Linked DNA regions of Homo sapiens. The protein of the gene in region 3 interacts with the protein of the main gene of each other region in a pairwise test. Each region holds a gene or a part of one and is shown on either strand. Other genes may lie near its edges.

The links.
Region 1: the proteins of SPTA1 (region 3) and DGCR6L interact in binary tests that used the Homo sapiens proteins (3 or more experiments, as listed by UniProt).
Region 2: the proteins of SPTA1 (region 3) and ZNF326 interact in binary tests that used the Homo sapiens proteins (3 or more experiments, as listed by UniProt).
Region 4: the proteins of SPTA1 (region 3) and BCKDK interact in binary tests that used the Homo sapiens proteins (3 or more experiments, as listed by UniProt).

Annotation. Positions count from the first base shown.
Region 1 is NC_000022.11:20,312,624-20,317,584, forward strand, and holds the end of DGCR6L (protein DGCR6L), read right to left. Parts: intron 3,597-4,961; coding exon 3,496-3,596; intron 2,854-3,495; coding exon 2,713-2,853; intron 2,202-2,712; coding exon 2,052-2,201; 3' UTR 1,615-2,051; downstream 1-1,614. UniProt on the Homo sapiens protein: May play a role in neural crest cell migration into the third and fourth pharyngeal pouches.
Region 2 is NC_000001.11:90,011,399-90,020,036, forward strand, and holds part of ZNF326 (DBIRD complex subunit ZNF326), read left to right. Parts: intron 1-1,727; coding exon 1,728-1,839; intron 1,840-5,918; coding exon 5,919-6,066; intron 6,067-7,286; coding exon 7,287-7,386; intron 7,387-8,638. UniProt on the Homo sapiens protein: Core component of the DBIRD complex, a multiprotein complex that acts at the interface between core mRNP particles and RNA polymerase II (RNAPII) and integrates transcript elongation with the regulation of alternative splicing: the DBIRD complex affects local transcript elongation rates and alternative splicing of a large set of exons embedded in (A + T)-rich DNA regions.
Region 3 is NC_000001.11:158,613,716-158,622,353, reverse strand, and holds part of SPTA1 (spectrin alpha chain, erythrocytic 1), read left to right. Parts: intron 1-1,887; coding exon 1,888-2,184; intron 2,185-3,019; coding exon 3,020-3,132; intron 3,133-4,297; coding exon 4,298-4,315; intron 4,316-4,765; coding exon 4,766-4,817; intron 4,818-6,950; coding exon 6,951-7,138; intron 7,139-8,047; coding exon 8,048-8,101; intron 8,102-8,486; coding exon 8,487-8,633; intron 8,634-8,638.
Region 4 is NC_000016.10:31,102,394-31,111,823, forward strand, and holds the start of BCKDK (branched-chain alpha-ketoacid dehydrogenase kinase isoform a precursor), read left to right. Parts: upstream 1-5,992; 5' UTR 5,993-6,086; intron 6,087-6,653; 5' UTR 6,654-6,830; coding exon 6,831-7,025; intron 7,026-7,117; coding exon 7,118-7,186; intron 7,187-7,279; coding exon 7,280-7,390; intron 7,391-7,683; coding exon 7,684-7,731; intron 7,732-7,811; coding exon 7,812-7,931; intron 7,932-8,007; coding exon 8,008-8,106; intron 8,107-8,294; coding exon 8,295-8,368; intron 8,369-8,697; coding exon 8,698-8,826; intron 8,827-8,906; coding exon 8,907-8,996; intron 8,997-9,430. UniProt on the Homo sapiens protein: Serine/threonine-protein kinase component of macronutrients metabolism.

The DNA.
Region 1 (4,961 bases), on a different chromosome or scaffold from region 3:
GGGGCCTTGTTGGCTAAGGGCTGAGGCCTCCCCAGGGAGAAGAGTAGGGCAGCCCAGCAGAGTCCTGCTGGGAAGAGGCCTCACTGGGAGAGGGCCGGACAGAGCCTATATCCCAACCCCACTTCAAAGGGGATAAAGTCTGGAGAGTGTAGATGGGGGACCTGGGGTGGCAGGACAGGGTCAGAGCTGGGACAGGGGCCCTGTACCCCTGCACCGGGGACAGTGTCCTGGAATTAGCCCTCAGCTCCTGGCTTTACCTGCACAGGATGGAGGAGCTGCGCTTGCATCCTACTGTACTTTGGACAGCTGCTAGGCATGTGTGACCAGATCAGCTTCCCGCTGGGTGAATGGGGCCCTCCCTGGTGCGATGGAGTGTGGTGCTGGGCCTGGGCCTCATGGCATTATCTGCCCCCATGCAGGCCAGGCTGGCTACCCTGTGTACAAGTATAGGGCTGTAGGTGCTGTCATACGTGTCCTGCCACGCCCTGGAGAACAGCAGCCTCGTGAAGGGTGCCCGTCGGGAGCGGCAGCTGCTGTGGCTGGAGCTCTTGAGGTGGCTCCGAACTGGCAACCTCTTCCATTGCCCCACCTAGCACCCCCCCGCCCCCGCCCAGGCCATCACCACAGCTGCAGCCAACCCCATCCTCACACAGATTCACCTTTTTTCACCCCACACTTGCAGAGCTGCTGGAGGTGGAGTCAGGTGCCTCCCAGCCCTGCCAATGGTGGGGGCACTCAGGTGTGGGCTGACCCTGATACCTGCCTGGGATAGCCGCTGGTAACTGTTAGGAACTTTCCTCGGATGTGTGGGCCCAAGGCCCCCACCTCTGTGACCCCCATGTCCTTGGACCTAGAGGATTGTCCACCTTCTCCCAAGGCCAGCCCACATAGCCCGAGCCCCTCGGGGAGCAGTGGCCGGGCTGGGGAGGCCTGCCTGGTCAATAAACCACTGTTCCTGCAGCTGAGAGCCCTTTGCCCTCACACAGGGTCAGCTCTGGGCAACAAAGAGGGAGTGGCTCAGACAGGGTCAGAGAAGTCTCATCCCAAACTCTGGCTTCCAGCATCATCTGTTCCTGGAGGCCAGGCCCTGCGCAGACCTGGCCACCCAGGGTGCTGGACACCCCCAACCCTGACTCCACAAGGACCCAGCAGGGCCCATGGGCCCAGGCCAGCACGGAGGGGACTCATGCAGATGCAGAAGCCAAGCTCCCCAGGTGGCCCTGGCATGCCTCCCCGCAGGGCTCCTCCTCAGGCCATTCCTGCCACCCTGAGTCCTCTATCCCAGTGACCTGCATCAGGCTCCTCCTAGTGGTTCCCACAGGACACTGACCAGGCTGCGGCAGGCGCATACTTGCACTCCGGGCCTTCTCCCATGCTCTCCAGCCCCCAGCCCCACAAAGCAGGCTGGATGTGGTCCTCATGCCCTGGGGCTTGGATGGGGGCCCCTGTACAGATGGCAGTGACAGCATCCTGGGACCAGGGCTGGGGCAGGAAAGGCTGGAGGGTCCCAGTCTCCAGGCAGGGGGAGGGGTGGTGGGCTGGGCACACAGCCCAGGAAGGGGCCCCCAGGTAGAGGCCTCTGCTGCAACAGAGGTGGGGGCCCTACCAGGGCCCCGGTTATGGCAGAACCTGCAGCTATCACACAAGCCACATTTGGGCCACACTGAGGCATCTTTATTTCTCTGGGTCACACAGAGCTTGGGCCTGGGAGCCTCTTCTGCATGGGGGCTGCAGCTGCCAAGGGAGCGGCTGAGACCAGAACAAGCGCTCGGGTGGGCCCCAGTGCAGGTTGGGATGTGCCCGGTGGAGTAAGGTGTGAGAACCCCCAGCCTCACTCTCTGCCTGGTCCTGAAGCAGACAGCAGCAGGCTGGCCCAGCCTCCCCTTTATGAGACTATCCTAGGGTTTGACAGCAAGTCCCAGATGAAGGGTGACAGGCAGCTGGGGTCCACCTGGTCTCTCCTCAGCAGGGGGAACCCCCTGCGGGCAGCTGGGAAGGCAGTGGCCAAAGGTCAAGAAGATGAACTCTGCCCAGACTTCTGCTGCCTGTGGCTATGGTGGGACAGGGCTGCCTTTCTGGTCACACTGGGCAGCAGGCGACTGCCAGGGACCTCCCAGTCCCAGGGCTGCATTCCCTGCCCGGCAGCCCCTCTGCTGCAGCTTTCGGATGAGTTCCAGCAGGTTCATCTGCAGCATCAGCTCCTGGGATACAGAGGGGCCCCATGAAGGCCAGAGTGACCCCCAGGCCCCTTTCATCCCGGCCCAAGGGTGCCAGGCAGTGAGCCCACGGGGGCGACCATCCTGTGAAGCCTGGTCATGGCCTGCCAGGACAGGGTGGAATCTGAGCTTCTGCCCCCAACAGGGCCACTCGGAATCTGAGCCTCTGCCCCCAGCAGGGCCACTCGGAATCTGAGCCTCTGCCCCCAGCAGGGCCACTCGGAATGGCATGCGGGAGGGGAGCAGAAGAGGGCCCTGTGTGGCACAGCAGGCCTGGAGAGGGTGGGCAGTGCCCATGGCTGGCTGGCTCACCCTCCTGTAGGGAATGGGCCTGGCCTCCGTGCTGGGAATGGCACAGAAATCCTTTCCAGAGCCTCAATCCTTCCACTTCACCCCCATACCCTGAGCCTGGCTCCCCAGGGACCAGCAGTAAAACCCCAGATGGAATGGGGCCCCGGGGCACTCGGGCTAGGGCAGAGCAGGCCCAGGCACTGACCTGTGGGTTGGTGGTCACGTAGAAGCCAGCCACCCCCGCCTTCTCCAGTGTGCTCTGCTGGTCAGCCACCTTCCGGTCCAGCTCCAGGATGATCTTCTGGTCCATCGCCCGCTGCTCCTCACGGATCCGGTGTTCCACGGCCTGCCATGGGGCCAGGGCGCGGAGGGGGAGAGGTGAGGGCAGCTCTGCCATCAGGGGGCGGGGAGGTGAGGGCAGCTCAAACACATGCTCCTGCTGCCGTCCCCAGTGGCAGCAGCTCTGACACCACCGGTGCATCCTCACCACACCCAGGCCTCTCCTCGGCCATGTGAACCCCTGAAGGGGGCCCCAAGGGGCTTCCACGAATGCCCTGGCTTGGGACTGCCTTAGGACCACACACACATCTCCACAGGCACACCCTGCCCCACGGCTTGTTGGTTACATGCCAGTCTCTGGTTGTCCCTGTGCTCCCTGGGAGAAGGATGGGCCCCTTCCTGGCCCCAACACCCTACCATTGCCTTTGTACCCCCCTGAGGCCACCTGCTCTGTGGAGGCCCAAACCCACGAGGAGCTGCTATCCAGGGGAGCACTGGTGGGTTCTCAACCTCCACCCAGCCCCAGCACACTTGGTATCCGCAAAGAGGAGCCACCTGGTGGGACTCACTAGGCCTCCAGTGTCCCACTCAGGCCCAGGACAGCCACCCATGCCTGAGCCCCCACACCCCTTCAGCTCAGCCCAGTCAGCAGAGCCAGGTGGTGCCCACAGGAGAGCTGGGCCGGCCACCCTGCCTGCGCCCCCAGTACCTCTAGTTCTCGCTGCTGAGCCGCCTGAACCACAGGCAGGTTGTGGGGCCGGCAGGCCTGCTGGGCTTCCTGGTGCTTCTGCCGCAGCGCCTGCCTGAGCACTGGGAGGGATGAGAGCCCGTCAGCAGGCGGTGGGACTCGGCAGCAGCCCTCACCCATGGGCACCTGCCTTGCCAGCCCAGCAGAGCAGCCAGGCCAAAGGGGTGTCTGCAGTGGGGAGGATGCCAGCCTCCTCCATCCTCCCACCCCACTGTCACCCAGGGCCGGGCCCTTATCTGGTGGCAAGTCTCCAGGGGACTCCAGAAGGTGCGGGGCACTGAAAGAGTGGGGTGGGGAAGACTGGCCAGGTGGGGCCAAAGCTGCAGCCCCAGACCCAGGGCAGCTGGAGGAGGCAGGCGGGAGGGAGGCTGCAGTCTGAGGGCTTCAGGGCCCCCATGGCCACAGGCCATGAGACATCTACTCAAGTGTCAGAGACCACCTCAGGCAAAGGCATGGGAAAGGAGCAGGAGGAGCGGGGTCGCTGACCCTGAGCGTGGGGCCTCTGCCTACCAGGGGTGTGGTCGGGCCCTCCACCCTCAGTGCTGCCCTTCAGGGTAGACAGCCCCTCCCTCATTTGCAGCTCCCAGCCCCCGCACAGCGCCAGAGGGAGAAGGGTGGGCAGACCTGGGAGGCCCAAGTTTGGGATGAGCTTGGGGTGCCATAAGCCTGTGTGGCTCTGAGGGGCTCACCCTCAGCCATCAAGTAAAGCTCCACGGTCCTTGCTAAACTGTGCACAAACACAGATGTGTGCAAACTGTCTGGTCTGAAGGGAATGTACAGAGGAAGCGATCATGGGACATAAACCACCATGAAACAGAACATGCAGCACCCCACAGCTGGCGCCAGTGACCAGTAAGTGCCAAATGGCTACAGCTCCCCAGGAGGGAGGGGTCCCTGGCCAAAAGAAAAGGTGAAACCCAACACTCTGTTCCTGGGAAGAGCCCTGATGTTGCAGCTCTTCTCTGGTGGCCAGTCCCCAGGGAACTCCAGGGCCCCTGAGGCTCCCCTGCAGGTAGCCTGGCTCCCGCTGTGCCTACAGCCTTCCCCGATCTCCTGTCTCTTCACATTCTGTACACACCTCGACGATGGTATTTACCAAAAGCCCCCCTCAAGACAGCTCCATAACACAGGGAAGCAGGGAAATGTCATCTCCTTCACTCTACTGATCAAACATTGCTACAAGTGCCAGGTCCACTACCAGATTCCACTAGATAGACAACCAAAAGGCAAGAAGAGAGCCACGCTGGCTGCCTGGGCAGAAGGGGCCTGGCCTTAGACATGACCAGGGAACACAAAGGAGGCAGGAGCAGCCAGTCGCCCCTGCCAAATCAGCAGGAGAAGCAGAAAGTCAATGCAGGCATGCCTGCTGCTGGTGGAACCAGGGCCTGGCCCAAACCTTCTGAAGCACAAACAGCATTGGGCCCAGG
Region 2 (8,638 bases), about 69 Mb from region 3:
TATGAAAGGAAGATTAAATTACTTATTTGAGGTAATATATAAATAAGTAGATTTTTCAAAGGCCATCCAAAAGGATAAGCAGTGCATAAAAGGAAAAATTTAAGGGCAAATAGTTAAGTTTTTTTTTTTTTTTTTTTTTTAAGTATAAAGTTAAATGTATTATAAGAAAGAACCTGCTCACAGTGAGTTACCACTCCATACCCACTTGGATGGTCATAATAAAAAAAGGAAAATAACAAATGTTGACAAGGATATGGAGAAATTGAAACCCTCACACATTACTGATGGGAATGTAAAGCAGTGAAGCCACTGTGGGAAGCAGATTGGTGCTTCCTGAAACAATTAAACATAGACTGTCCATATGATCCAGCAATTCCACTTCTAGGTATTCTTCTATTCCAAAGAATTTAAAGTAGTATTCCAACAAAAATTTATTTATTTATTTATTTTTATTTTTGAGACAGGATCTTACTCTGTTGCCCAGGCTGGAGTGCAGTGGTGCAGTCTTGGCTCACTGCAACCTCTGCCCCTGGGTTCAAGCGATTCTCGTTCCTCAGCCTCCTGAGTAGCTGGGACTACAGATGTGCACCACCACGCCCAGCTAATTGTTGTATCTTGAGTAGAGATGGTTTCGCCATGTTGGCCAGGCTGTCTTGAACCCCTGGCCTCAAGTGATCCATCCGCCTCAGCCTTCCAAAGTGCTAAGATTACAGGCATGAGCCACTGTGCCTGGTCCAAACAAAAATTTATATATGAATGTTTATAGTAGCATTATTCATAATTGCCAAAAGGTAGAAACAATTGAAATATACATCAACAGAAGAATGGTTTAAAAAATGTGGGTTATTCATACAATGGAATATTATTAAACCATAAAAAAGGAAGTACTTACTAATACATGGTACAACATGGGTGAACTGTGAAAACATGCTAAATAAAAGTCAGACCAAAAAGGCAACAGACAGGATGATTCTAGGTATATGAAATACTTAGAATAGGCAAATCCGTAGATCAGAAAGCAGATTAGTGGTTACCAGGGCCTTAGGGTAGGGTTGAAATGGGGAGTGACTGCTTTATGGGATGATGAACAGTTCTGTAACTAGATAGTGGAGATGGTTGCGTAACTTTGTGAATGTACTTAATGCCATTGAATTGCACATTTTAAAATGGTTAAACTAGTAAATCTTATGTTTTGTGTATTTTATCACAATAGAGAATATTTTTTAAAAAAGAGAACAAATTTGCTTTTATTTTGGAGGTTACAAATTTTAAGAAACTTTCTGAGAGCTCCTACAATATGAACATGAGTTCTTGCATCCAGGGCTCTGCAGTGTTTACTGGACTTCCATTTTCATGCTCGGTCAGGTTACTTTAGTGTTTTTCCCAAAGTATGTGATGCCCAAGATGATTTTAGGTGATAAGGATATTATTGCTTAGAATAAGGATAGGACAAATGAGCACATTTAAAGAAAAATATGTAGCAAATAATCACATAGATGACAAGCAGATATGACAGAATTCATGATGATGGTATTCAAATGAATGAAGTTCATTTAGTGAAGTTTCAGAAATACTGGATAGTCTCAAACTCCGATTTTTTTGGTGAGTTCAATTTTAGATTACAATCACTAAGTATACCTCATAAGTATGTACTTTACGAACTGATGATTGGAAAGAGAGAATGGAAAAATGAATTTTAGCTTTTACTTTTTTGTGTAATATCCTAGCAAAAACTGATCCTAAAAATGAAGAGGAAGAAAAGCGGCGAATTGAGGCTCGGCGAGAGAAACAAAGGCGCAGAAGAGAAAAAAACAGTGAGAAATACGGAGATGGATACAGGTTTGTACTTAGAGTCAGAAAATTAGGTTCATTAAAAAATGATTTCCTAGAAAAAGCCAACACATCAATTGTAATATTAAAAAGTTCTTAAGATTCAAATGAAAAGACTTGTTCAAAGATACAGAGGAATGCTTTTGGTTTTTGATATTTATATGTAATCACTACTTAGAAAACATAAGAAAAAAGGCATTCTATTCATATTGGCAATCCAAAAGATATCAAATATTCAGAAATAACAGTATTCTTAAAAAGAAACACTTGTCATTGAGATTTGACTGTATGGAGTCATAGTGATTTTCATGGGCAGGAATTAAATATTACAAATATGTAAGTTCTTTCCAATCCAGATCCCAAAGGAAATTCTGAAGAAGAGTAAATGAGTAGGTACTGGCTTTTATAGATAATCAATCATTAAAAAGCTATAATAGTTAAAAATATGTGGTAATACACAAAGCTAATTATTATACCAGATTAGCCTGTGAACAGACTGTAAGGAAGAATGTAATATTTAATAAAGAGGATATTAGAAATAAGAGGGGAATTGGGCTAGGCACAGTGGCTCATGCCTGTAATCCCAGCACTTTGGGAGGCCGAGGCGGGCAGATCACGAGGTCAGGAGATCAAGACCATCCTGGCTAACACGGTGAAACCCCGTCTCTACTAAAAAAATACAAAAAAAAATTAGCCAGGTGTGGTGGGTGCCTGTAGTCCCAGCTACTCGGGAGGCTGAGGCGGGACGATGGCGTGAACCCGGGAGTCGGAGCTTGCAGTGAGATGAGATTGAGCCACTGCACTCCAGCCTGGGCAACAGAGCGAGACTCTGTCTCAAAAAAAAAAAGAGGGGAATTGGTTGAACAATGAAATAACAACAAAAATCAGTTTAGAGCCTCCTCATATGACACCTGGAATGAATGTAGTAAAAAAAAAATGAAATTACAGAAAAACAAAATGTTCTGCAAGGAGATTTTTTTCCCAGGCTTAAAAGTTATAGAATAAATTACAAAGGAAATTATGAGCAGATTTGGCTAAATAAAAACTTAAAATTTGAAAGGAGTGCAAACAGACTTGGAAAATATAAACATGAGAAATGATTAATGTCCAAGTTAGATTAAAACATCACCCAAATTATTTTAAAAAGTAAGAAAACTAAGCTGTTTAATATGATGAGGAAACAAAAAACAGCTAGTAATAATTTTAAGGAAATTGTTTAAACTTAACAGTAATTTCATTAAACTAAAAATTTAAATAATAGTATGCCATTTTATTACTAAGGAGAAATTTGATTTGCTAATTAAGGAATGGTCAAAGGACGCTTAAAATTTGTTGGTGACAGTATATTATAACTATTAGCAATTTAGCAGTTTTTTAAAAATGTCTAAATTTTTCTTAAAGCCTTGAGCCCAGAATTTTGAGGCCAGCCTGGGCAACGTGGCAAGACCTCATCTCTAAACAAAACAAAACAATCCATAAAAAGAAGAGTAGTTCTAGTTTCAAGAACTACTGCTATTTTTAGTCCTTGTGAGTTCTCTGTCCCATTCATTATCTCTTGTGATTCCTTCTTTTGGTAGAAGTAACAGGCATAGTTAATATTTTGGTGTAGAAATGACTTTAAATTATCAGCGTCTTGGAGTGTAAAAATCATTTTACATTATAAGATGCAATTTTTTAAATTTAATTGCCCTATGAGTACTTTTCTCATGAAAAATTTTAGATATGGATTATGTTCATGTTAATATAATATATAAAATTGTGATATAGAGAAAATGAAAGAATTGAACTTTCATTTAGCTATTTTCTCTGTAACTCTAAATATAAATCTGATGATATAACCAAAAGAATGTTAACTCATAAATTATCATTTTAGGATATAATTTATTTAAAGTAGTCTAAGTTATTTTCATTTATCAGAGCAGTTTTACTTTGAGTTATGAGGATTCGAGATTGAGTAAATCACTATTCTTGTGATAGGTTCCTTCCCTTGGATATTTGAATGCTTCCCACATAATAAAGCACATGGAAAGGTTTATATCTACCCTTAAGGGAACCTAGGGAGAAAGAGATGGATGTGTGAGAGATGTACATAAATAATAGTGTATGGTGAAGGATACCAGGAGTACAATGTAGTCTCATGAGATATAACTTCTAAATAAGGGTATAGGAGACCAAGCATGGTAGCTCATGCCTGTAATTCCAGTACCTTGGGAGGCCAAGGCAGGCGGATTGCTTGAGCCTAGGAGTTCAAAACCAGCTTGGGCAACATGGTGAAACCTCATTTCTACAAAAAATACAAAAATTAGCCAGGTGTGGTGGCACGTGCCTGTGGTCCCAGCCACTTGGGAGGCTGAGGTAGGAGGATAGCTTGAGCTTGGGAGGTGGAGGTTGCAGTGAGTTGAGATCGCGCCACTGCACTCCATAGCCTGGGCAACAGAGCAAGACTCTGTCTCAAAAAATAAATAAATAAGGGTGCATGGAAATCAGGGGAGGCTGCAATGATGGAAGTAGTATTTGAATTGATCTGGGAATGGTAGGGTTACAGGAGGAGTTGTGAGAGGCAGCCCAGGTAGAGGCCATGGCTTGCCATCAAAGCAAACAGGAATGTGTTATTGTTATTTAGAAAATTGAAAGCAGTGTAGATTGAAGTGACTCTAATGGGTGAAAGGTATAATCTAATTTAAACATTTAATGAAGAAATGCTGTGCCAGATAATGTTAAAGGTATTGGTGAGTAAAGCCAAAAAGAAGAGATTAGGAAATTTCCTGGATGGCAGCTGAAAACATTTTTGTCTTTGTTTTTGGAGCTTATGGAGCTAATGAAGCCCTTTGAGCAGTAATGTGCTCTTACCTCCTATAGGAAGTAGCAATAATTAATTGAATAATTATTGTGTTTTAGGAAATGTTCTAAGGGCTTTGTCTGCATTAATTTTTAAAAATCCTCAGACACCTCTGTGAGCGTTCTCATCTCAATGTAAGAAAACCAAGGCCCAGAAAACCAAGTCAAGTAACTTGCCCAAGATCACAAAATGGAATTAGGATATGAACTCAGCAGTTGGCTCCAGAGCTCATACTCTCAACCAGGAAAATAAATCTAATAGCATTGCAAAGAATTAATTGGAAAATGGAGACTGGAGACAGAAACCAGTTATGTGACTGCTGGCATAATTCAAGGAAAAGAAAATAATGTAAAATAGAAACAGTTATTCTGGTCACGGTGGCTCACACTTGTAATCCCAGCACTTTGGGAGGCCGAGGCAGGCAGATCACCTGAGGTCAGGAGTTCAAGACCAGCCTGGCCAAGGTGGCAAAAACCCTGTCTCTACTAAAAATATAAAAATTAGCCAGGTGTGGTGGCGCATGCCTGTAGTCCCAGGTACTTGGGAGGCTGATGTGGGAGAATTGCTTGAACTGGGGAGGTGGAGGTTGCAGTGAGCTGAGATCGCACCACTGCACTCCAGCCTGGGCAGCAGAGCGAGGCTCCATCTCAAAAAAAAAAAAGAAAAAGAAAAAGAAAAAAAGAAGCAATTAGGTGGGACTGTTCATTATGGAGTGGCTCTTGAGCTTACAGATGTATGCATTTGTCCAGTCCAGGCCTATTAGTTATCCCTAAGTGAAGTAGTCTTTAGAAGGCAAGACTTTTATCACCCAAGAATTCCACAGGAGTGAATTATGATTGTCTGGTGGTGTGCCACCTTGCTTTATTGATACTACCATTGGTTTAGAAGCTTGAGGATGGAACAACATGTAAAATAAGTTGCAGAACTTTGGAACTTGATACTTCTTGAGGTTTGTTTTGCCTTTTTAATTGGTCCAGGCTTGAAGTGGATAACTTATAGATCCCCTGATTCAATTTTTCCTACCCGGAAGCTCCAAGGTGGGCTAGAAATGCAAAGTGGTATATGGGTACTGTCCAAATATGTACTTAAATACTGTTTTTTTTGGATTTAAGCTAAGTTTAATTCAGTCATAAAGAGGAAGAAAGGAAATCATTTATGTTGGTAAAATTAGTTTCAATGTTATATTCTTATGAACTCTTTATAGTTGAATAAAGTAATATTTAAAGGAAAACTTTTTTTTCTCTTACAGAATGGCATTTACATGTTCATTTTGTAAATTTCGAACATTTGAAGAAAAAGATATTGAACTGCATCTGGAAAGTTCTTCACATCAGGAAACATTAGATCATATACAGAAACAAACTAAATTTGATAAAGTAGTTATGGAGTTTTTGCATGTGAGTAGCTGTTTTTGAAGTGAGAAGCATTTTATTGATATGAATTTCTTATGATTTCATTTTTCACTCTCCCCATCTCTCACATTTATGTTTCTAAAATTTTAATTTACTATTTAAAGAAAGAGTTGTTTTAAAATTAACTCAGAATTACTTGTGAATTCCTCTATAATAGAATTTGTATTTGTTATTTCAGAAATTATTACATTTTTCACAGTTTCTGCGGGAGGTGTCCTTTAACAACTGTATTGATGTGGAGTCAGCTATCATCCATTAACTGGAGTTGTGCTGGTTACATTCATTCGTTATTTCAGTTGAGCCCTGTAACAATTCATTTTTATCATGAAAGATTATGCTCAGAGCAGTTAAATGACTGTTAAGTGACAATGCCAGGAATTCAGAAATAATGTAGGAGTTTAGCAAAGGGAAAGACAGTTGGGAATGTTAAGGAATGCTTAAAGAAGGGGCTTGAGCTGGACTGTTGATTGTACGTACAATTAATTTGGACAGAAGAGGTGGAATTATTAGAAAGTTAAAAATACAATGATCAGGCCGGGCGCAGTGGCTCACGCCTGTAATCACAGCACTTTGGGAGGCTGAAGCGGGTGGATCACGAGGTCAGGGGTTCAAGACCAGCCTGAGCAACATGGTGAAACCCCGTCTTTACTAAAAATATAAAAATTAGCCAGGCGTGGTGGCGCGTGCCTGTAATCCCAGCTACTTGGGAGGCTGAGGCAGGAGAATTGCTTAAACCCGGGAGGCAGAGGTTGCAGTGAGCAGAGATCGCACCACTGGACTCCAGCCTGGGTGACAGAGCGAGACTCCATCTCAAAAAAAAAAAAAAAAAGTGACCTTTCAGACCACTGTAATTCTCATAGAACTGTGACCCTTAATTAACAATCTTCTGTAATTTATTTCCTTAATGGGTTTCTGTGTGTCCTTTATAACTTAAATACCCACCTACTCTGGAAGACCTCTTAAATATTCTAGCTCCCTTTGATCCCTTTCTCTATATGCTTAAAATATACTTTGAAAAATGAATAATTTTTGTAGGTTCCTAATATTTTATGATTATCTTTTCAATTAAATTATAAACTCCTTGAGAAAAGATGTTAATTCTTATGTAGCAGATACTGTATCTTCCATAGAATGAACATAGTGCTAAGCATTATACTTGAGTGCTCATTGAAAGCTATTTAGATTCTTTCTATTTTGTTTTCTAGGAGTGTATGGTGAATAAATTCAAGAAAACATCTATTCGTAAGCAACAGACAAATAATCAAACAGAAGTAGTTAAAATAATTGAAAAAGATGTTATGGAAGGTAAGTATTTAAAACAAATTATTTTAAAATTCTACATGTATTTTTATATATCATAACCTGTTTAAATGTAAATGATAGCCACTAGAGTGATATAGTACAGTCATATATACAGTAGCTCTGAGTGAGTTACCAGAAATGAACTTCTTTGTCTTCCTGTTCTAATGCTTACAAATTTATCATTACCTGCCATTACTTTCTTCACTTCAGTTTGAGAGGAAAAGTTACCTTTTCCTCTAGATGAAAGATACTTCTCTCTGTTCTCTGTTTCTGTTATTCCTTCTCCCAAAATTCAAGTTATGAAATCTTCTGTTTTTTAGTCTTTCCTTCTCTTTTGATTCCATCTCTGGAGTCTGTAAATATGCTTTTACTTAAAAAAAACAAAACAAAACAAGAACAAAAACAAGAACTAACCAAACAAAAAACAGCCAACAAAAGGAATAAAAGAAAAGGAAAGAAAAACAGACACTAGTTCTCCTAAATAACCTGTCTTCTTTTTCTTTTTAAATAACCATGCTTCTTTAAGCATAACCCACACTATTCTCTGCTTCTTCATCTCCCATGTATTACATTAAGCTAATTAAACAACTTTCTACTACTGTTAGTCTACTGAAACTGCTGTGACAGAAGTTACCAACACCAACTTCTCTAGGTTCTTTGGAATCATTATCTTCCGTAACATTTTTTACTAACTATATGATTCATGAATCATTTTTCTTCCTTTGTTTCTGTGGCACTTCACTGGCCTAATGTTTTCTTTATCCTTTTGTCATTTTTTAAGTCTTTATGGTTTCTCTGCCACTCTTTTAGAATTTGATGTTTCTCAGTACCTTGTCATTAGCCCCATTACCATCTCTTTTTATATTCCTTCCTAATAAATTCACTTACAGAGCTTAAGTTAGTATCTAGATGTTCATTGCTTATACATCTATGTTTCTAGCACAGATCTTTCTTCTGAACTCTAGTCTTACACATCTAACTGCCTACTGACATCTCTTTACAGCAGTCACACAAAATCAACATATCCAAAAAAGTTATCGTCTCCTTGAGCATATCCTACCTTACAAAGAAAGCAAAACAAAACCTCACAGTTTTTTCCTTCACGTATCTTGAGAAGGGCCTGCACCATCTACCAAAGCCAGAAGTAGAGAGTTATATACTAGGTACTTTTTCCTTACTGTATCTATAGTACTGATCAGTTGATAACATCAATTCTCTTTTAAACATTTATCAAATCTGTTTCTTTACCTCTCCT
Region 3 (8,638 bases):
ACCTAAATATATGTACATTAATAATACATAATAAATATGTATGATTAATATGGATTAATATAATAATGTAACATTATTACATTACTACATCCATATAAAATTCCATATAAATATGTAATCAAAATATTCCTTCAAATGTTGGCTGCTAAGGCATTGGATGTTGATCATAAAAATATCAATAATGGAAGGAGGCCAGGTGCAGTGGCTCACGCCTATAATCCCAGCACTTTGGTAGGGCAAGGCAGGTGGATCACTAGATCAGAAGATCAAGATCATCCTGGCTAACACGGTGAAACACCGTCTCTACTAAAAATACAAAAAATTAGCCGGGCGTGGTGGCGGGCACCTGTAGTCCCAGCTACTCAGGAGGCTGAGGCAGGAGAACGGCGTGATCCCGGGAGATGGAGCTTGCAGTGAGCCCAGATCGCGGCCACTGTACTCCAGCCTGAGCGACAGAGCAAGACTCCATCTCAAAAAATAAATAAAAGGAAATCAGAATGGTCAGTGGAATTACTGAGCACTCCTAGACCCTAAGAATCATTGTACTTGGTAACAAATTAAGTCAAGGAGTTAGGGAATTTAGGAAATAACACATGAGTAAAAGTCAAATCAGAGTCTTAGTTAATTTCCACACTTTTGAAAAACATAGGGCCTACATCAAATAAATCTTAGGTGAAAAATTAAATCAATTAAGTGGGCAACTTTACACATATATGTGCATTCTATATAGGAAGCTCCTTCATATTTTTAATCTTCTTTTTAAAATAATTTCAAACTACAATGAGTTTTGTTTATTTTCTGATTACAAGATATTTATAAAATATTCACTCAATCTATAACATTATGAAAAAGATATTAAATACTTTATAGGTTTCTGTGTCCTTTCTGTGTAGAGGTCATGTTAATTTTCTCTGTATTGATCTATTTTGGCATATAGATTGCTGAAATGAGTACAGGGTCAGATGTAACGGTTTAATACCTTTGAAATCCTCCCTCCATTTGGGCCAGTTTTCTTCTTTTTAATTCTTGTATTTGGGAATGAAAAATTCATTTTTATGTTTGCTCAAGACAAACCTCTTTAGAAGTACTATCTGCTGACCCAAAATCTGTAATGTATTTTAAGTATAAAAGTATATTTGATCACTTGCTGTTTGAAAAAATTCATGCTTTTTCTGTCATTCAGTAATACAGAAAATTCAGAGCTATTCAGAGCACTTGGATAATGCCAGACAGTAATACAATGATACATATATTTGTGCTAAGGATACAGGTTAGAGGGTAGAAGATAAGTTTAAGCAGTGGTTTGAAAAGCTTCAGGCATAAAATGAGGCCTGAACAAGGTTTAAAAGGAAGGTAGGAAAATGACATAGCCTTGTCAAAGAGAAGTCAGCTGGGTGTGGTCTACAGAAGCTTGTAGGATAATAAGATAAAGGAGATAACAGATTTTCTTGGTTTGTTTATTCAATCATTATTTCATCCATTCATTCAATGCTTTTTTTTTTTTTTTTTTTTTCATGTTTACTACTTGCCGGGTAGAACTGGAGGATAGACTTTAGAACAAGAAATCATATAATTGAAAACTACCTTTGCTACTTTTGGAATTTTAAAACTGAAATAATTTTAGAAATAATTCGACCTCCCTCATTTGTAAATGATGAAAGACTTAAACAATTTCACACAATGAGAAAATGCCAGAACCAGGGCTCGTACCGCTAACTCACATGTTCAACCATCAAAGTACACAGTCCCTATTGGTTTTAGTTCTGCCCTTTTAGATTGGTGGCCCTGCAGATATTTAAAGACAGGCATTATTTTTATCCTCAATCTTCTCTTCTGCTGAGAGGCTTTATCAGGAAAGATGGTAGTGTCTTTTTTTTCTCTCTGCAGGCTGAGGACCTGTTCGTGGAATTTGCACATAAGGCTTCAGCTTTGAACAACTGGTGTGAAAAGATGGAAGAAAACTTGTCAGAGCCTGTGCACTGTGTCTCCCTGAATGAAATTCGGCAGCTGCAGAAAGACCATGAGGACTTCTTGGCCTCCCTGGCTAGGGCTCAAGCAGACTTTAAATGTTTGCTGGAGCTAGACCAGCAGATTAAGGCCTTAGGTGTGCCTTCCAGCCCTTATACCTGGTTAACAGTGGAGGTGCTGGAAAGGACCTGGAAGCACCTATCTGACATCATTGAGGTAACCTGGAACACGGCAGAAACTTCCTTTCACTACAGTGAACATAACCACTTTATTATCCAAGTAAATAGACTTTTGACATAGAAGGAACACTATTAATAACTATACTGGGACAGAAGTCATGAAACATGACTGTCTAAGAAAAACTGGAAAATATGTTTATCATAGGTATACCCTATGCCCCATAATTTGGGCAGTTTCCTGTTTTTGAGTATTGAACAATGATTCTGAGAAGCAAACAGAAGCCCCAAGACATGGTTCTAATGATGAGCTATGAAAAGTTCATGAGGCTTTATATGTATTCATTGTCTACATATCCCCCTCATTCAAGACATTTTCGTTTTTATATACACCTCCAAAAGTGCCTTGCTACGTATGTATTTTTAGCTTTTGTCTGTGTTAATAATGTTCATTATTGAAACTATGAAACATAAAAAGTGTAATAGAAAACTAACCACAATATCACCATTTTTAGATAGTAACTATTGTTTCTAAGGGTAGCAGGCCCTTTAAGGCTGCTTTTGTGTTCATTTAAATTAAATTTCCCCAAAAGAAATTATAAACAGGAGAGGTTTGCTTTTATTACTAGCTTACTTGTTACGGGACTTGGTCTTAGAGGACCCTGCAAGTACTCTTGGGAAATACACAGGCTATCTTTACATTTTAGAGGTGAGAGAGGTTGACTGCATGAAATATGAGCACACAGGCACATACCTGTGGAAGATAGGTTAGACTTGAGAGAGGAAAGATATGCAGTTAAGCCTACAAACCAATTCTCTTATGGCAAAGAAAGGCCTTCGATGTCAGTCACGTTGTCTGTGATTTGGGGTTTTAGGAACGGGAGCAGGAGCTGCAAAAGGAAGAGGCAAGACAGGTCAAGAACTTTGAGATGTGTCAGGAGTTTGAACAGAATGCCAGTACCTTCCTTCAATGGATCCTGGAAACCAGGTGTGCTATGCTACATCCCAAACCATGACCCCTGTGCCACCACCATTTGCCATAGGGATGAAATACATGTTTGAAGGGAAGAGGAGAGACTCTGAGAGCATGTATTCTGCCCTAAAATCCCCATATCTTGCCTATGCTTTATATTTGGAGTTGACTGTTTTCTGAATCAATTCTTGGAAAACCAAGAAATGACAATTTCATCCTTCTGCTTATTATGTACACTTCTGTATTCTCTCCTTGATACTCTCACCTTTCTTTCTGTTGCCTGTAATTTCAGTCCAAAATAATAACAATTTCTTATGTTCACATGCCATATTGCACTTTACAGAGTACTTCCATATCCATTACCTCACTTAACTGTCGGAGCAACCTTGAAAAGCATACAGAGCAGCTCTTATTAGCTCTGTTTCCAAGTGTGGAAAGTTCAAGTAGATAAATTTACTTGCTCAAGGTCACATATATATTTACTGGCATAACCAGAAGCAGAATCTTCTATGAATACCTCATATGAAGCTATTCTGTTGTGTACCTACTAAAGTTCTAATGAGAATCAAGTGAGATAATTTATGTTAATTGTGCTTATTAATAGCAAACTGTTCTGTACCTGAAGATAACATATGTCACATCTTCTGGGGTAAATGACCTAGAAAAAGGAGACTTAGAAGATGTAATATATTAGAATACATGGTCAAAGTTGTATCCAGTAGGTGTGTCAAAACTGTGGTGTTTTGAGGGTTAATGTGGTGGTTTAGACAATTCATGATATATACTTTTCTACATACTCACTGACAACGATAAATGAACAAAAAGAAATCCTATACCATGTCTAAACCATCTGACAGAAGGCAGAGAAGACACAGAACACCCTTCTCTTCCTCTTTTCTTGGTGACTTCATCACATCCTGGCAATGTGTGTCCAACACCAAGCATATTCCTTGACATTGGTGCTCCTTGTCCTGAAGCAAGGAGCTTTATGGGAGACTCTGATCTTCTCAGAGTGGGAGAGGCCTTGGGAACCAGTGGGTGGACAGATTCATGTTTTGTGGCAACAAAAGATTTAAAATGTTTCATAAATCTGAGGAAATGAGATCTTTAAAGTAATCCATTTTAACATATCATCTCCCTTTTCTCTCATGTGATTCCTGTTCCGGACCTCCATGTCCAGGGCTTACTTTCTGGATGGGTCAGTATTTTATGTTATCATCATGTTTGCTTTATTATATTATTATGGAAGAATTCGTTAAGAAAGAGTTAGTGCTGAGACATTTTCATTCCATTGTAATCTGGTAGTATGTAAATAAAAATGTGGAGTGAGAAGGAAAAGCTCATTATATTTCATTCTGCCCTTATACTTCACTAGACGGAATCTTGCCTACATTGCTTAAGTGTGTATTTAAGAAGAATAATTAAGAGGGGTATGTGAAAGCCTTCTCCTAGTCAGAGAAGAACTAGGGAAAGTCTTCCCTTCTCATCAGTCTGGCAAGGTTGTGAAAATTTGGCTCTGTGAAATTTTGCTTCATGTAAGCCACATAACCTTGGAGAAGTTGAAACAGAGGAGCTTCGAGTTGGTATGCATGTATGAAATATTGACCTGTGATGTGATGCATAATGATTTCCTTCGGTTCTTAACTAGATCATTGCTCAAAGAAACAGGAACTCTGGAATCTCAGCTGGAAGCAAATAAAGTAAGTATTGTTTTTTCATTAACTGAAGATATTGCCAAAATTATAAGGAGTGTAAAAATAATCACCTAAGGGAAGCCCAGGTGATACTTTTAGGTATGTATCACCTGAAGTCCATTTTAACCATAGGCCATCACATCATGAATATAAACCTCAGTCTACTTAAATCTCTGAATTTCAATTTCTGCATCTACACAATAGAGTTAGTACCCATTGTAGAGTCACTGTTTGCCCTGAAGAAAGAATTTCATGGGAGACTCTGATCTGCCCAGAGTGGGAGAGGCTTTGGGAACAGTGGGTGGGTGGTTTCACGTTTTGTGGCTACAAAGGATTTAGAACATGATGATGAAGTAAAGGAGCAAATGTAAAAGTGCCCAACACTGGCAAATTTCTGTTATTATATGACGTAGTAAGATGATACAATTGAATCTAATCATCTCTTGACAACTGAGCGAAGTAATGGGTTAGAACAGTGTTTCTCAACATTTTTTTTTTACTATTATTCTTGCAGGAGAAAAAAATTAAGTAATGACATTTAATTTTTTTCTAACAAAAAAATGAAATACTAGAGAATACGATGTCAGGTAGTTTTGACTGTCATCTCACTTGAGTTAAAGTGGCTTTTATTAAAAAAACAAGGAATAATGGATGCTGGTGAAGATGTAGAGAAAGTGGAAATAGTACAGCCACTATGGAAACCAGTATGGAAATTCCTCAAAAAATTAAAAAGATAAAGACCATATGATTCAGCAATCCCATTACTGGGTATATATCTAAAAGAAGGGAAATTAATATATCAAAGAAATATCTGCCCTCCCATGTTTATGACAGGAGATAACAGGGAGACTATTCACAATAGCCAAAATATGGAATCAACCTAACTGCTCATCAATGGATTAACTGATAAAGAAATCATGGTATACACAATGGAATATTATTTGTCCATTAAAAAATGAAATTCTGACATTTTCAGTAACATGGATGGAACTGAATGTCATTATATTAAGTGAAATAAGCCAAGCACAGTAAGACAAATATTGCATGTTCTCACTCGTAGGTGGGAGCAAAATAAAATGGATCTCATGAAGACAGAGAGTATATTGGAGATTACTAGAGGATAGGAATGGTAGGGGGAGATAGAGGAATGAAGAGAGGTTGATTATTGGGTATAAATATACAGTTTGATAGAAGAAATAAGACTAGTAATTGATAGACCAGTAGGGTGACCATAGTTTACAATAATACCTTGTATATTTTAAAATAGCTAGAAGAAAATACTTTGAATGTTTCTAGCATAAAGAAAAGACAAATATTTAAGGTAATAGACATCCAACATATACTGATTTGATCTTTACAAATTATATGAATGTATTAAATTGTCTTGTATACCCTGAAGTATGTACATCTATTATATATAAATGAAACTTAAAAAAAAGATGTCAGGCAAATTTGACCTTTGAAAGGCTACAAGCTTTGTCATATCCCACATTTTTTTCACTGCACTCCACAATCATCAGAATAAATTCACACTTACCCTTATGAGCAATATTCCCTCACTGAGAAAGCATGGGCAAGATGCAGAAATTTGGCATAAAACATGTCTGCATGGCAGGAGCAGCCCATGAAAATCATCCCAAGTTGATGAAAGTGGCCCAGGAGTGAACACTGTGGAGCTTAAGTGAGCCTGAGAGCTCAGCCACAATCAGTGTTGCAGATAAGTCCCAGTGCAGATCACTGTGAGCCATTGATGATGCATGGACTCTGGAAATTTTATTTTTCTTTATTGGCTCTCTTGATAGATGACAGATGATAGACAGACAGATAGATAGATGATAGATAGATGATAGATAGAAAGAATATATAGATATAGATGTATGTGTGTGTGTGTATAACTACTAACTCTTAGATTTATATGTTGCAGAATACCAGAATGACAAGTTTTATTCACCTAAACTTCCCATTATTTTATAAATGAGGACTATAGAAGTGAAGTGGTTTTCCCAAGTAGTTCATCTTTTCACAGAGAACAAGAAGATTCCTGAAAATAAAATCAGCCTGTTATCTCCTCTTCCACCTCTAGGTTTTGAGCTGGTAACCTGGGCAACTAATTGTCTCTCTTCTCTGTCGTTTTTCCAGAGAAAACAGAAGGAGATCCAGGCGATGAAGCGTCAACTAACCAAGATTGTGGACCTGGGGGACAACTTGGAAGACGCTCTGATCCTTGATATCAAATACAGCACCATTGGATTGGCTCAGCAGTGGGACCAGCTCTACCAGCTTGGGTTGCGGATGCAACACAACCTGGAGCAACAGATCCAGGCCAAGTATTGAGGGCGTGTGGCCAGAGCAGGGAGGGATGCAGGTGGTGTTAGGTGTTAGGACCTTAACTAAGGGCGAGAGTTTGGTGCACCAGATAAAAGAGTTGCTTCAGAGAACCAATATTCTGGGTCTTTACTGCCCCACGGAATGACTATTTCTCTTTATACTGAAATCCATCATGAAATAAAAGACAGTGCTCTCCATCCACCTGAGCCTACTCATCACCCACTTGGACAACAACTGACTTTTATACCCAATTTCTCAGAGTTCTTTCACCATCTTATGTGATCTCTTAGGAAACCATTCCCTTTCATAGAATTTTATCTAAAATGTAATGTCTAGATTAAAAGAAACATTTAAAGTGTGGCCAAATAGAGCAGAAGGGCAGAAACTCATTTTCTAGATAAATTCACTATATCAAAGCAGCTCTAGGTCTCAATAGCATTTTGGCAACATTTTTATCTAGATTAGGATTGGCAAACTTTTTCTGTAAATGGTCTGATAATAAATAATTTAACTTTGTAAGGCACATATATTTTCTGCTGTAACTCCTTGATTCTGCTGTTGTAGTGAAAAAAGCAGCTATGATAAGTGAATGACCGTGGCCATGTTCCAATAAAGCTTTATATATGGACATTGAAATTTAAATTTTATGTAATTTTCATGTTTCAAAAAATTTTCTTTTGATTGTCTTCAACCATATGAAAATGTAAAATCTACTCTTGGCTCATGGACTGTACAAAAGCAGGTGGCAGCCTAGATTTGGCCCATGGACTATAGTTTGCCAACTCTTGAACTAGATGACTCAAATAGCAAATTGTCCATTAAAATTCCTCTCTCTTCCATGTGGCTTGTGTTCTGCTAACCTGTGTTTCATATACAGGGAAAATTCATGTTTTTTTTTTTTCTTTCAGGGACATCAAAGGTGTGAGTGAAGAGACTCTAAAGGAATTTAGCACAATCTATAAGTGAGTATAATTTCATAGTTAACTGCTTCTTTGTTTTTCAGATTATTCAGAATGAGTCTACAAATAATGTTTCTCTCACTCTGTGAGGCTTGGTGGAATCTTAAATGAAGATCTAGATATGCTCATTAGCTCCAGTCATGGCTTTCTGTGAGATTTTCAGACTTCAAAAAATACATTTCTTCATTCTCAATGTTTTATGCTTTTCTCTCTATCCATTAGGTTAAAAAAATGTACATGACACAGACAGGCTTTGTATTCAGTCCTCTGATAGTTTTGTGACAGGTCAATAAAGCTTCAGCTGACGCAATAAGACATATTCCTTTCTGTTCTCACTTGGTTTTTCTATTGAGCTTGATAAATTTTTTTTTCTTTTTTTATCCTTTAGACACTTTGATGAGAATTTGACAGGGCGCCTGACTCACAAAGAGTTCCGGTCCTGCCTGAGAGGACTCAATTACTACTTGCCCATGGTGGAGGAGGATGAACATGAGCCCAAGTTTGAGAAGTTCCTGGATGCTGTGGATCCAGGGAGGTAGG
Region 4 (9,430 bases), on a different chromosome or scaffold from region 3:
TGAGCCAAGATCGCACCACTGCACTCCAGCCTGGGTCACAGAGCAAGACTCTGTCTCAATTTAAAAATAAAATAATAATAATATAGGGCAGTCAGACTGCCCACCTGGCAGCTCAGGACTAGCACATGTGCTCCAGAAAGCCAGGTGGAAGCTACATATTTTATGATCTAAACTCAGAAGTCATATAGCATCTGTTCCACTGTAATCACAAGCCTTCCCAGTTCCAAGGGGAGGGAACATAGACTCCCTCACCTCTTGATACAAGAAGTGTCAAAGTTATATGGTAAGAAGTTGGCCAGGCCCTGCTTGTCTCTGTTGTTCATGCCTGTAATCCCAGCACTTTGGGAAGACGAGGCAGATGGATCACCTGAGGTCAGGAGTTTGAAGCCAGCCTGGCCAACATGGTGAAACCCTATCTCTACAAAAATACAAAAATTAGCTGGGCATGGTGGTATGCACCTGTAATCCCAGCTACTTGGGAGGCCAAGGCACGAGAATTGCTTGAAGCTGGGAGGCAGAAGTTGCAGTGAGCCGAGATTGTGCCACTACACTCTGGCCTGGGTTACAGTGCAAGACTCTGTCTCAAAAAAAAAAAAAAAAAAAAAGAGAGAAGTTGGTTGGGCCCAGTGGCTCACGCCTGTAATCCCAACACTTTGGGAAGCTGAGATGGGAGGATCGCTTCAGGCCAGAAGATCCATCGTTACCAGCCTGAGCAACACAAGGAGATCCCGTCCTTACAAAATTTTTTTAAAAATCAGCTGGGTGTGGTGGCAGGCACCTGTGGTCACAGCTACTCGGGATGCTGAGGTAGGAGGATCGCTTGAGTCAGGGAGGTTGTGGCTGCCGTAAGCCATGAACATGCCATTGCATTCTAGCCTGGGTAACAGAGTGAGACACTGTTTCAGAAAAAATAATAAAATAAAATAAATAATGTTGTAGGACAGGCGTGGGGCTCACGCTTGGAATTTCAGTGCTTTGGGAGACTGAGGCAGGAGGATTGCTTGAGAACAGGAGTTCGAGGCTGCAGTGAGCTGTGATCGCACCACTGCACTCCAGCCTTGGTGACATGAGCGATATCTTGTCTCAATAAATAAATACATACAGTTCTCTTTTACATCGAGTATATGTAAATTTTTAAAAATACATTGAAAGCGCTTAGAAAGCCGCCTGACTCTCCCTCTCCCTCTCCCTCTCCCTCTCCCTCTCCGTCTCCGTCTCCGTCTCCGTCTCCGTCTCCGTCTCCGTCTCCCTCCACGGTCTCCTTCCACGGTCTCCCTCTGATGCCGAGCCAAGGCTGGACGGTGCTGCTGCCATCTCGGCTCACTGCAGCCTCCCTGCCTGATTCTCCTGCCTCAGCCTGCTGAGTGCCTGCGATTGCAGGCGCACGCCGCCACGCCTCACTGGTTTTCGTTTTTTTTTTTGGTGGAGACGGGGTTTTGCTGTGTTGGCCGGGCTGGTCTCCAGCTCCTAGCCGCGAGTGATCCGCCAGCCTCGGCCTCCCGGGGTGCCGGGATTGCGGACGGAGTCTCGTTCACTCAGTGCTCTGTGGTGCCCAGGCTGGAGTGCAGTGGCGTGATCTCGGCTCGCTACAGCCTCCACCTCCCAGCCGCCTGCCTTGGCCCCCCAAAGTGCCGAGATTGCAGCCTCTGCCCAGCCGCCACCCCGTCTGGGAAGTGAGGAGCGTCTCTGCTTGGCCACCCATCGTCTGGGATATGAGGAGCCTCTCTGCCTGGCTGCCCAGTCTGGAAAGTGAGGAGCGTCTCTGCCCGGCCGCCATCCCATCTAGGAAGCGAGGAGCGCCTCTTCCCCGCCGCCTTCCCATCTAGGAAGTGAGGAGCGTCTCTGCCCGGCCGCCCATCGTCTGAGATGTGGGGAGCACCTCTGCCCCGCCGCCCTGTCTGGGATGTGAGGAGCGCCTCTGCTGGCCGCAACCCTATCTGGGAGGTGAGGAGCGTCTCTGCCCGGCCGCCCCGTCTGAGAAGTGAGGAAACCCTCTGCCTGGCAACCGCCCCGTCTGAGAAGTGAGGAGCCCCTCCGTCCGGCAGCCACCCCGTCTGGGAAGTGAGGAGCGTCTCCGCCCGGCAGCCACCCCGTCCGGGAGGGAGGTGGGGGGGGTCAGCCCCCCGCCCGGCCAGCCGCCCCATCCGGGAGGTGAGGGGCTCCTCTGCCCGGCCGCCCCTACTGGGAAGTGAGGAGCCCCTCTGCCTGGCCAGTCGCCCCGTCCAGGAGGGAGGTGGGGGGGTCAGCCCCCCGCCCGGCCAGCCGCCCAGTCCGGGAGGTGAGGGGCGCCTCTGCCCGGCCGCCCCTACTGGGAAGTGAGGAGCCCCTCTGCCCGGCCAGCCGCCCCGTCCGGGAGGGGGGAGGGGGGGTCAGCCCCCTGCCCGGCCAGCCGCCCCGTCCGGGAGGGAGGTGGTGGGGGTCAGCCCCCCGCCCGGCCAGCCGCCCCGTCCGGGAGGTGAGGGGTGCCTCTGCCCGGCCGCCCCTACTGGGAAGTGAGGAGCCCCTCTGCCCGGCCAGCCGCCCCGTCCGGGAGGGAGGTGGGGGGGTCAGCCCCCCGCCCGGCCGGCCGCCCCGTCCGGGAGGTGAGGGGCGCCTCTGCCCCGCCGCCCCTACTGGGAAGTGAGGACCCCTCTGCCCAGCCAGCCGCCCCGTCCGGGAGGGAGGTGGGGGGGTCAGCCCCCCGCCCGGCCAGCCGCCCAGTCCGGGAGGGAGGTGGGGGGATCAGCCCCCCGCCCGGCCAGCCGCCCAGTCCGGGAGGGAGGTGGGGGGATCAGCCCCCCGCCTGGCCAGCCGCCCCGTCCGGGAGGTGAGGGGCGCCTCTGCCCGGCCGCCCCTACTGGGAAGTGAGGAGCCCCTCTGCCCGGCCAGCCGCCCCGTCCGGGAGGGAGGTGGGGGGGTCAGCCCCCCGCCCGGCCAGCCGCCCCGTCCGGGAGGGAAGTGGGGGGGGTCAGCCCCCCGCCCGACCAGCCGCCCCGTCCGGGAGGGAGGTGGGGGGATCAGCCCCCCGCCTGGCCAGCCGCCCCGTCCGGGAGGTGAGGGGCGCCTCTGCCCGGCCGCCCCTACTGGGAAGTGAGGAGCCCCTCTGCCCTGCTTGAAGGCAGCATGCTCGTTAAGAGTCATCACCACTCCCTAATCTTAAGTACCCAGGGACACAAACACTGCGGAAGGCCGCAGGGTCCTCTGCCTAGGAAAACCAGAGACCTTTGTTCACTTGTTTATCTGCTGACCTTCCCTCCACTATTGTCCTATGACCCTGCCAAATCCCCCTCTGCGAGAAACACCCAAGAATGATCAATAAAAAATAAAAATAAAAAAAAAAAAATAAAAAAATAAAAAAAAAAAAAAAGAAAGCCGCCTGACCTGTATACAGTATTCTGAAAAGGGGGTCGCGAGGTGCATGTCCAACCTCCGCCGCCGGGGGCAGCAGCGAGTCCAGGCCGAGCCGGGGCCTAGCGAGCGGGGTCAAATGGGGTGAGGCCTGTGCCAGACCTCTCCACCTCGGTGGCAGCCGCAGCCTCCTCCGCCTGCGGCTCCTGTCCACGCCGCGGCCACGTGAGCGCCAGATTCTGGCGCACAGACCACTGCCAGTCCTTTGCTGCTTTGCGCAGCCTGTCCTCCCCGCCAGGAGCACCCTTCCCGCTCCCTTTTACCACGGGCTCCAGCCGTGGCTGCCTTGGGGCTGCCGCCGCCTGGCTGTACTCCAGGACGTTGGGAAAGAACGGGTGGGAATGGTGTGGGTGGGGGTCAAAGAGGAAACCCAGAGATGCAGGGCGCCCCTTTCCCGTGGTCTGCCCCCAATTGCTCAGGCAGGCCAGTCACGGTGAGGCGTCCTCCCTCCAAGTTTATATTTATTATTATTTATTATTTATTTTTTTCACCTTCAAGTTTATTATTTATTATTTATTTATTTATTTTTGAGACGGAGCCTCTCTCTGTCGCCCAGGCTGGAGTGCATTGGCACGATCTTGGCTCACTGCAACCTCCGCCTCCCGGGTTCAAGCGATTCTTCTGCCTCAGCCTCCCGAGTAGCAGGGATTACAGGTGCATGCCACCACATCCGGCTAATTTTTGTATTTTTAGTAAAGACAGAGTTTCACCATATTGGCCAGGCTGGTCTCGAACTCCTGACCTCAGGTCATCTGCCCGCCTTGGCCTCCCAAAGTGCTGGGATTACAAGCATGAGCCACTGCACCTGGCTAACCTCCAAGTTTAAAGACAGCCGCCAGGCCCAGTGGCTCACTCCTGTAACCCCAACAACTCAGGAGGCTGAGGCCAGGAATTTGAGACCAGCCTGGGCAACATAGCGAGACCCCGGCTCTAAGAAAAATAGGCCAGGCACGGTGGGTTACGTCTGTAATCCCAGCACTTTGGGAGGCTGTGGCAAAAGGATTGCCTGAGGGGGAAAAAATCACCCTGGGGGTAGTGGTGCACACTTACAGTCTCGGCTACTTGAGAGGCTGAGGTGGGAGGATCATTTAAGTCGGAGGCTGCAGTGAGCTACTATGGAGCGACTGTATTACAGCTTGAGCAACAGAGCGAGACCCCATCTCCAAATAAATAAATAAAGATAGCCTCCAAAGATGTCACTTGCTTCACTTAGCACTTTTTATTGAACATATTTAGGAAATATATAACCATGGTAAAGAAAATTGCAATTAGTACAAATACACACTACACACATATGCACGTGCACACACTGAAACGTGTCCCTTCCAGCGCCTCCTGCCTGGATAATTTTTTTTTTTTTTGCAACGGAGTTTTGCTCTTGTTGCCCAGGATGGAGAGCAGTGGCGGGATATCGGCTCACTGCAACCTCCTCCTCCCGGGTTCGAGCGATTCTCCTGCCTCAGCCTCGCGAGTAGCTGGGATTACAGGCGCCAGCCACAACACCCGGCTGATTTTTGTATTTTTAGTAGAGACGGGGTTTTGCCAAGTTGGCCAGGCTGGTCTGGAACTCCTGAGATCCGCCCACCTCGTCCTCTCAAAGTGCTGGGATTACAGGCCTGAGCCACTGCGCCTGGCCTAAAGTAATTGTCTTCTTATTGGTTTCTCTGCCTTTGGTCTCACCAAACGCCCCACTCTAAATCACTGCAGACAAGGGGTTCTGTCTAAGGAGGAGAGCCCACCAGTTAAAACCCTTCAGTAGTTCCTAACTACCCTAGGACAAATGCAGACTTATCCTTCGCTCTCTGCTGCCGCCCCTCTCCTTCCCAGATCCCATATGGCTCCAGCCATATCCTCAGACCATCTGGGCTGTTGTCTGTCCTGCCACACACCCTTCCCACCCCGCTCCCTTGCAAGTCCTACTCAGGCTGCACCTACACAGCTGTCTCAGTTTCTATCTGAGGCTCCCGCAGCCTCCTCTGAAAGTCCTCATCACAGCCAATGATACTGAAACTGTTTTCTTATGCAGGGCACGGAAAGATCTATTCAACTCACTGCCCAATCTCCTCTCCTGGTGCAGAAAAGACACCCAGTCAGCGACTTGCATTATCTGCAGGCATGAGTGAATAATAATAATGCCTAACCCTTATATAGTGCTAATTCCACGCCTGGCACTGTTCTAGGCACTCATATAAATTCATGTAATCCACACAACCCCAAAACTGATGATATCTCTTCATCTTACCAAGCACTGAGCAGTTAAATAACTTGCTCCAGATATTAAGGGGTCGAGCTGGGGTTTGAAGCCTGGTTACCCATAAATGAACCAAGAACTGGAAGGAGGACAAGAGCTCCGAGAAGGAGTCAGGTAGGGCGTGATCTGTGCGCTTTACATCTAAGATCTTCCAGCTCCCAGGGAGCCCGTTTCATAGAGCAGGAGATAGAGGCTGGGAGGGACACGGAGAGCCTCGAGAGCCGTGTGGAGGAAGCGGTGCTGTTTGGGGTCCGGGAGCAAGGGCGTGGCCTGGATGCGCGGGCGCCCGGGACGGCACGTCCTCAGACCAAACTACAACTCCCAGGACCCAGCGGGCGCTGCCGCCCACGCGACGTCACGGCGGCGGAGGGCGCAGGCGGCTGGGCGCCTGGCGAGTGGACTGTTCGAGCCCTTCCGCTGGGACCCGGGCCCTGGCTCCGGCCCCGCGGTAAGTGGGGCGACCCCAGCCTACTCAGTCCGCGGAGGCCCCGCGGCGCACGTCCGCAGCCTCCATCACAGCGCGGGCGCGCAGACGGGGCTGGCATCTACCATATGGGGGGCATCCGGGCCGAACCAAGTGACCCGCGTGGGGGGTCCCGCTGGGGACTCCGTGCCGCACCCTCCCAAGCCGGCCCCAGGGGCCCAGGGCTGGTGTCGCACGTTCGCTGGCCGCGCTCCCAGGGCCCGGGTTTGAAGGCGCTGGGCAGGCAGGGGCAGCCCCGCCCCCTGAGAAGGGTACCCGGGACCCCGGGGCGCTGGGGCGAGGTTTTCGGGCTGGAAGGGTCTGAGGGGCTCCTCCCCCGACAGCCCTCCCACCGCCAGTAGAGCCTCGGGTTGGGGAATAGAAGCCCCCGGGAGGCTAGGTCCTTTGGGCGCGGCCTGTGTGCATCTGGGGAGACGGTGGGAGTGGTGGGGAGAGGTCGCCCGGGTCTGGGGAGACCGATGCACAGGTGGAGAGATGGTGCGGGTTCTGTGGATTCGGATCCTTACAACTTCCTCTTCCCCGCCCCGGTAGATGGGAGCTGCTCTCCGCGGGCTGAGCCTGTCAGCATCCTCGACGCACCCTGGTCCCTGAAGTCGGAGAAGAGCCCCTACCCACCCACACCCCCTTGCCCCATTTTGGGTCGCCTGGGTCCTCAGTCCTAGCGGATCCTCAGTCCTAGCGGCCACCGGGTCTGAAAGGAGCAAGACGATGATCCTGGCGTCGGTGCTGAGGAGCGGTCCCGGGGGCGGGCTTCCGCTCCGGCCCCTCCTGGGACCCGCACTCGCGCTCCGGGCCCGCTCGACGTCGGCCACCGACACACACCACGTGGAGATGGCTCGGGAGCGCTCCAAGACCGTCACCTCCTTTTACAACCAGTCGGCCATCGACGCGGCAGCGGAGAAGGTGCGCAAGGGGGCAGCCAGCCCAGGGTCCGGGATGTAGGCGGGAGGGAGAGTGTTGGGGGTTCTCTGCTCAAGGCCTCTCTCCCTCTCTAGCCCTCAGTCCGCCTAACGCCCACCATGATGCTCTACGCTGGCCGCTCTCAGGACGGCAGCCACCTTCTGGTAAGATTCACGCCCTCTATTTTCCTCGTGGATCCTGGAGCTCTCCCAGACACTCAGGCTCCAGCCCCGCCTTCCCTTCTCATTTTCTCCCAGAAAAGTGCTCGGTACCTGCAGCAAGAACTTCCAGTGAGGATTGCTCACCGCATCAAGGGCTTCCGCTGCCTTCCTTTCATCATTGGCTGCAACCCCACCATACTGCACGTGGTAAGGTAGAGAGGACCTTAGGTCAGCGGGCCACCCTGCCCCGGGGGCAAGTGGGGAGTCTGGGGCCCAGAGTGGCAGACGATTGCTTGCCTAAAGGTGTCAGGGCCACACAGGATTCAACCCCAGGCCTTCAGAAGCCAAAGGTGTGTATTCACGGAGCCTGGAAGGGTCGAAGTGGGGGTTTGATCACGTGGTCGACCAGCTGGGTGGTGATCCCCATGGGTAGGTGGGGGTGGCTGTTCTCTGCTCAGTGCCCATGCGGCTTTGTGAATTCCCACACCTCTTCCTTGCAGCATGAGCTATATATCCGTGCCTTCCAGAAGCTGACAGACTTCCCTCCGGTGAGTGCTGGGCCAGAGCAGGGTGAGGGGCTGAGAGGTTGGGCTTGGACCACCCTTCCTCATGACTCTGTGACCTGCAGATCAAGGACCAGGCGGACGAGGCCCAGTACTGCCAGCTGGTGCGACAGCTGCTGGATGACCACAAGGATGTGGTGACCCTCTTGGCAGAGGGCCTACGTGAGAGCCGGAAGCACATAGAGGTTGGGGCAGCAAAGGAGAGGCCGGGCCTGCTGGGGGTGGGAAGGGCACGGGATTCTGAGACCTCACTCTTTACAGGATGAAAAGCTCGTCCGCTACTTCTTGGACAAGACGCTGACTTCGAGGCTTGGAATCCGCATGTTGGCCACGCATCACCTGGCGCTGCATGAGGACAAGGTGGGGCTCTGGGACCTGAGACCCACCTGGGAACATTAAGTGAGACAGAGGAGACTGGGCTGGGGATCCGGGTCAAGGGCCTGGGGGCTGAGGCTGTGGGGCTGGTGCTTTGGGGCAGTTCCGAAGTTGCCAGCATCTTGGGGTGGGGCTAGGGGCGTGGGTAGTCCTGACCTCCTTTCTCCGGCCAGCCTGACTTTGTCGGCATCATCTGTACTCGTCTCTCACCAAAGAAGATTATTGAGAAGTGGGTGGACTTTGCCAGGTGAGGCAAGAATGGCTCAGGGGGTGGGCAGACATCTGGGGCAGGGAAGGCTTGGGTCTGAGCCCTTGCCCGGGGCATGATCTGCGGGGAGCAGGGTTTCTCAACCATGGCACTATTGACATTTCCAGCCAGATAATTCTTTGTCACAGGGGCTGCCCCGTGCACGTTAGGAAGTTCAGCAGCATCCCTGGCGCCAGCAGTACTGCCTAGTTGTGACAAACAAAAATGTCTCTGCACATTGCCATATGTTACTTAGGGGGGCAGAATTGTTTCCAGTTGCAAACCACTGGTGGAGGGGCCCCTGACTGAACCCTCGCTCCTATCCGCAGACGCCTGTGTGAGCACAAGTATGGCAATGCGCCCCGTGTCCGCATCAATGGCCATGTGGCTGCCCGGTTCCCCTTCATCCCTATGCCACTGGACTACATCCTGCCGGAGCTGCTCAAGAATGCCATGAGGTGGGGTGGCTTGATGTGCTGGCTTGGGGGCGGACAGGAACCGGGGTGCTTGTACCTACTGGTCTTTCCCCTCTGCATAGAGCCACAATGGAGAGTCACCTAGACACTCCCTACAATGTCCCAGATGTGGTCATCACCATCGCCAACAATGATGTCGATCTGATCATCAGGTTTGCCCTGAGTGGGAGTTGAGCTGAGGTGGATGGGATGGGGGTCTAGGCACTGTTTCTGACTTGATTTAGGACCTTGAGCCCCTTCCTGCCCCATTCTGGGACTTGGTCCCTGACCAGACAAACTATTCTCTGAATCCTGAGATGGCCATGAGCTGCTTATTAATGGATCTGGGGCCAGCTGCAGGCCTAGGTATCCTGCCTCTGTCAGCAGCTGAGGAGCTTGAAATTGAGAAATAGTCAGGAGTCGGTCTAGGATGCTGGGCCGAGGATAAATGTCACATCCTGTGAGAAGGTATAAGCAGTCAGTGGCCCTGGCAGGGGTGAGGATGATATAAACAAGGCCCAAGGGTCTAGGTGGACCACATTCCAGCTCTGGGTGGAAGGAACAGGAAGGCAGACTTTGCACTGTCTGCTTGGGGGGTGGTGAGTAC